Linked DNA regions of Homo sapiens: region 1 is linked to region 2. Evidence: fine-mapped expression QTL. A gene starts in region 2. The other region holds a variant in brackets. All regions are shown on one strand. Distances are between the middles of the regions.

Evidence for each region. PIP is the estimated chance that this variant, and not a neighbour inherited with it, causes the effect.
Region 1: its variant is fine-mapped to the expression of RIGI in whole blood (TOPMed, PIP above 0.99).

The regions. Positions count from the first base shown.
Region 1 is chr9:32,454,383-32,457,303 of GRCh38, reverse strand. It overlaps ACO1 (aconitase 1), which reads right to left. Exons shown (of 21, transcript NM_002197.3): 21 at 2,535-2,921. RIGI (RNA sensor RIG-I) reads left to right here. Exons shown (of 18, transcript NM_014314.4): 18 at 1-2,002. The coding sequence ends at 182. Among named protein-coding and RNA genes, the nearest start is that of RIGI, 70 kb to the left of the region's middle. The variant C/T (reference allele first, on the strand shown) is at 1,285.
Region 2 is chr9:32,524,820-32,527,740 of GRCh38, reverse strand. RIGI (RNA sensor RIG-I) reads left to right here and starts at 1,545. Exons shown (of 18, transcript NM_014314.4): 1 at 1,545-1,680. The coding sequence starts at 1,575. RefSeq lists an enhancer at 1,395-1,644.

The DNA.
Region 1 (2,921 bases), 70 kb after region 2:
GACAGAACTGCAGCCATGACTGGGGAATCCATGTGAAGTACAAGACATTTGAGATTCCAGTTATAAAAATTGAAAGTTTTGTGGTGGAGGATATTGCAACTGGAGTTCAGACACTGTACTCGAAGTGGAAGGACTTTCATTTTGAGAAGATACCATTTGATCCAGCAGAAATGTCCAAATGATATCAGGTCCTCAATCTTCAGCTACAGGGAATGAGTAACTTTGAGTGGAGAAGAAACAAACATAGTGGGTATAATCATGGATCGCTTGTACCCCTGTGAAAATATATTTTTTAAAAATATCTTTAGCAGTTTGTACTATATTATATATGCAAAGCACAAATGAGTGAATCACAGCACTGAGTATTTTGTAGGCCAACAGAGCTCATAGTACTTGGGAAAAATTAAAAAGCCTCATTTCTAGCCTTCTTTTTAGAGTCAACTGCCAACAAACACACAGTAATCACTCTGTACACACTGGGATAGATGAATGAATGGAATGTTGGGAATTTTTATCTCCCTTTGTCTCCTTAACCTACTGTAAACTGGCTTTTGCCCTTAACAATCTACTGAAATTGTTCTTTTGAAGGTTACCAGTGACTCTGGTTGCCAAATCCACTGGGCACTTCTTAACCTTCTATTTGACCTCTGCGCATTTGGCCCTGTTGAGCACTCTTCTTGAAGCTCTCCCTGGGCTTCTCTCTCTTCTAGTTCTATTCTAGTCTTTTTTTATTGAGTCCTCCTCTTTGCTGATCCCTTCCAAGGGTTCAATATATATACATGTATATACTGTACATATGTATATGTAACTAATATACATACATACAGGTATGTATATGTAATGGTTATATGTACTCATGTTCCTGGTGTAGCAACGTGTGGTATGGCTACACAGAGAACATGAGAACATAAAGCCATTTTTATGCTTACTACTAAAAGCTGTCCACTGTAGAGTTGCTGTATGTAGCAATGTGTATCCACTCTACAGTGGTCAGCTTTTAGTAGAGAGCATAAAAATGATAAAATACTTCTTGAAAACTTAGTTTACTATACATCTTGCCCTATTAATATGTTCTCTTAACGTGTGCCATTGTTCTCTTTGACCATTTTCCTATAATGATGTTGATGTTCAACACCTGGACTGAATGTCTGTTCTCAGATCCCTTGGATGTTACAGATGAGGCAGTCTGACTGTCCTTTCTACTTGAAAGATTAGAATATGTATCCAAATGGCATTCACGTGTCACTTAGCAAGGTTTGCTGATGCTTCAAAGAGCTTAGTTTG[C/T]GGTTTCCTGGACGTGGAAACAAGTATCTGAGTTCCCTGGAGATCAACGGGATGAGGTGTTACAGCTGCCTCCCTCTTCATGCAATCTGGTGAGCAGTGGTGCAGGCGGGGAGCCAGAGAAACTTGCCAGTTATATAACTTCTCTTTGGCTTTTCTTCATCTGTAAAACAAGGATAATACTGAACTGTAAGGGTTAGTGGAGAGTTTTTAATTAAAAGAATGTGTGAAAAGTACATGACACAGTAGTTGCTTGATAATAGTTACTAGTAGTAGTATTCTTACTAAGACCCAATACAAATGGATTATTTAAACCAAGTTTATGAGTTGGTTTTTTTTCATTTTCTATTTGTATTTTATTAAGAGTGTCTTTTCTTATGTGATTTTTTTTAATTGCTATTTGATATGGTTTGGCTATATGTCCCCACCCAAATCTCATCTTGAATTATAATCCCCATGTGTCAAGGGAGGGACCTGACGGGAGGTGATTGGATCACGGGGGCAGTTGTCCCCATGCTGTTCTTGGGATAGTGAGTTAGTTCTCATGAGATCTGATGGTTTTATAAGTGTTTGACAATTCCTCCTTTACACACACTCTCTCTCTCATCTGCTGCCATGTAAGACTTGCCTGCTTCCCCTTCTGCCATGATTGTAAGTTTCCTGAGGCCTCCTCAGCCATGTGGAACTGTGAATCTATTAAGCCTCTTTTCTTTATAAATGACCCAGTCTCAGGCAGTTCTTTATAGCAGTGTGAAAACAGACTAATACACTATTGTTTAAGAACTCCAATAGGATGTGTAAAACATCTACTAGAAATAGATTTAATAAGATAAAAGTTATTATTATTATTTTTTTTTCTGAGATGGAGTCTCACTCTGTTGCCCAGGTTGGAGTGTAGTGGTGTGATCTCGGCTCACTGCAACCTCTGCCTTCTAGGTTCAAGTGATTCTCCTGCCTCAGCCTCCCACATAGCTGGGTACAGGCACCCACCACCACACCCGGCTAAATTTTTTTATTTTTAGTAGAGTCGGGGTTTCACCATGTTGGCCAGGCTGGTCTTGAACTCCTGACCTCAAGTGATCCACTTGCCTCGGCCTCCCACAGTGTTGGGATTACAGGCGTGAGTCACCATGCCTGGCCAAGAAAAGTTCTTTTAAGTATGTAAATGATTCAATTTGGATGAAGGTGAATAGCCCTATTCAGCCAACTGAGGCAGGCAGACTGAAGTGAAAATAAATAAGGAGAACTTAGCATTTCCTTGTTTGACTTTTAATGGAATAATGTCATTGCCAGGCATGGACTCAAACAAAGTAGGCACTTGGTTAATATGTATTGAATGAAAGAAATGAGCAGGTAGGCTTTTAGGAAGTGGATCTTTTGACTGACTCCCAAATGCTGGTCATTGCATTTCTAGAACAAAGGCCACATTTTAGAAACAACTGGGGAGTCTTTTTCATGGACACATGCCCAGCCCCATTAGAGCATCCTGGCAGGGTGTCCAGCCGTGTATGTTTTGAAGCTCCTGTGGTTCAGACACAACCTGTTACACAACTACCACCTTGTTATCTCTGTGGTCCTGGCCTGTGCTGATGCTGTGATATTTTCACCCTGAAATGAAGAGTCATCCCAACATCAAGGTC
Region 2 (2,921 bases):
GACTCAATATTGTTAAGATGTCACTTCTCCCCAAGTTTATCTGTAGGTTCAATGCAATCTTGATCAAAATCCCCATAAACTTTTTTTGGGGGAAGGAAGGGGTAATTGACAAGTTGATTCTTATTTCATATGGAAATGCACAGGGATTCAAGGTTGCAGTGACCCCTGTTTGCACCACTGCACTCCAGCCTGGGAGACAGAGTGAGACCTTGTCTCAAAAAAGAAATTAAAAAAAAAAAAAAAAAAGGAATGCAAAGAATCTCAAATAGCTAATATCTTCACAGTGAAAAACAAATTTGGAGAACTTAGTAGTACTTGATTTTGAGACTTAGTTGAAATCTAAAGTAACCTAGAGACAATGGTATTGTCAAAGTAGTAGGAAGTAGAATATAACAAGAGTCAGAAATAGACACATATACATTCAATGGACTTGGTTTTTTTACAAAGGTCCCAAGGCTATCCAATGCCAAAAGGAAAAGTTTTCAACAAACGGTGCTGAAACAATTAGAAATATGGAAAAAGTGAACCTGGACCCCCCATCTCACGCCACAACAAAATTATTTTGAGATAGTAATAGACCCAGAAGTAAAGGCTAAAAATATAAATCTAAAAGGAAACAATATTTTCATGACCTTGGGGTAGGCAAAGATTTATTAAAGAGGACACAAAAAACAACAAACAGAAGAAAAACCTGAAAATTGCATCAATATAAGTGTCTGCTCCTCAAAAGACACCTTTAAGAAAATGAAATGGTAAGCCACAGACTGGAAGAAGATATTTCGAATACATATATTTAACAATTTTGTATCCTGAATAAATAACTCCTGTAAATCCATAAACCAAAAAACTCCAAAGTCAGGCAAAAGATTGGAGCAGATGCTTCACAAAAGATATATGAATGACCCAGTAAGCACATGCAAATGTGCCCACCATTAATTATATGGGAAATTAAAATTAAAACCACAATAATATACCATTTCACACCGACCAAGATGGAAGTTAAAATTAAAAAAAAAAAAGAAAGGCTGACCAATGTGTCTATCTACTGGAGCTCTCCTACTGCGGGTGGGAATGTAAACTGGATGTAATCAGTCATTTTGGACAACAGGTGGCGGTTTCCTATAAAGCTAAACATAGACTTACCCTGGCACCCAGCCGACGTGGGAGAACTGGGTACACAGGTGTACACTTTACAAAACTCATCGAATTGCACACTCAGATTGTGTGCATTTTACTGTGTCTAAACGTTAGCGCTATAAAAGCAAAACAAAATATAAGATCATAAAAATAAAAGCAATTCCTAGGGGTCCTCTCCGTTCCCGGGCTTCCTCGGTGCGGAGGGAAACGAAACTAGCCCGAGGCAAAACAGCCTCCGCGAACCCCGCCCGCCGCTAGTTGCACTTTCGATTTTCCCTTTAGTTATTAAAGTTCCTATGCAGCTCCGCCTCGCGTCCGGCCTCATTTCCTCGGAAAATCCCTGCTTTCCCCGCTCGCCACGCCCTCCTCCTACCCGGCTTTAAAGCTAGTGAGGCACAGCCTGCGGGGAACGTAGCTAGCTGCAAGCAGAGGCCGGCATGACCACCGAGCAGCGACGCAGCCTGCAAGCCTTCCAGGATTATATCCGGAAGACCCTGGACCCTACCTACATCCTGAGCTACATGGCCCCCTGGTTTAGGGAGGGTGAGTGTCTCCAGCGGCGCCTTCTCGGCGGAAAACAATTGAGGACTTGTTTTTCTCTTGCTTCGTTCCCTTCTTTTAATCAATGCAGAGAGCCTGCCAGACTCCCCAGGTTTGTGGTAAGATCTCCGCAGCATTTTAGGCTAGAGGTTGCCAGAGTTTGAGGAGCCCTCGGAGGCCTAGGTGGGGAAACTGAGTTCCAGCGAGGTGAAGTGACTTGCTTAAGGGTGCTCATCTATTTAGGTTCAAAGCTGGGGAAGAAATTTTGTTTCATTTATTTTCACTAATATTAAAGTCTACTGTGTGCTTGGCTGGGTACTGACAGAGATTGAGAAATAAGATAAGGGCTCTTCCTTAGTATACATTACAGTCCAAGGGATGGGACACAAAGGGCAGATAATTACAGTACTGAGCACAAAGTGCGGTCTGAGCTTAAAGGAAGTTGATGCTTACTCTGCCGAATCTTATTTGCACGCCTAAAGAAGTGGAAGCTGGAGAGGAGCCGGACTTTTCCAGACCGAATAGCTTTAGGCTTTAATACAGGTGTTTCCATCTAACTTCGGAGACAGGTGATCCTGGGTAATGACCATTTTGTAAATTTGTATCGAATTACTTTGTGCTGGAGATGAGCAGAGGCTTCTGGGAAAGAGGTGAAAGGAGGTGGTACTTAAAAGATATCGATGAGGCCGGGCGTGGTCCCTCACGCTGTAATCCCAGCTGTAGAGCACCCGATGCTGTTGCTGTTCGGGGTGCCACTATGTAACCCGCACGGACCTAGGGGACTGAACAAAGAGGGGCGAACGCGGGAATAAAAGACAAGAGACAAAAGAGTATATCTGGAAGAAGGGGTCAGGGGGCACCTTGCCTCTAGTGGACAAGGGCCCTGAGCTTTACACAGCCCTTCTTATTAGGCAAAAGAGATAGCGAGAAGGGGAGGTGCTTGTTGGCTGGCTGCTTGATTCACAGCAGGCTTGCAAGACTGCATTCTTTGAACAATAGGTGCTAGATTTCTCAATAAATAATTTCAAGGAGCCTGGCGCCAGGGAGTGAGGCGCTCAGCAAACCATTTGGTGGCAAGGCAGTGTGAGTTTGCCCAGGTGCTGCATTCATGATAAACAGTTTGCTGTTTGATCATATAGCCTCCAGCGGAATGCTGAGTTGGTCACATCCCAAGGGCCTTCGGCTCCCTGCAGCCAGCACTTTGGGAGGCCTAGGCGGGTGGATCACAAGGTCAGGAGTTCGAG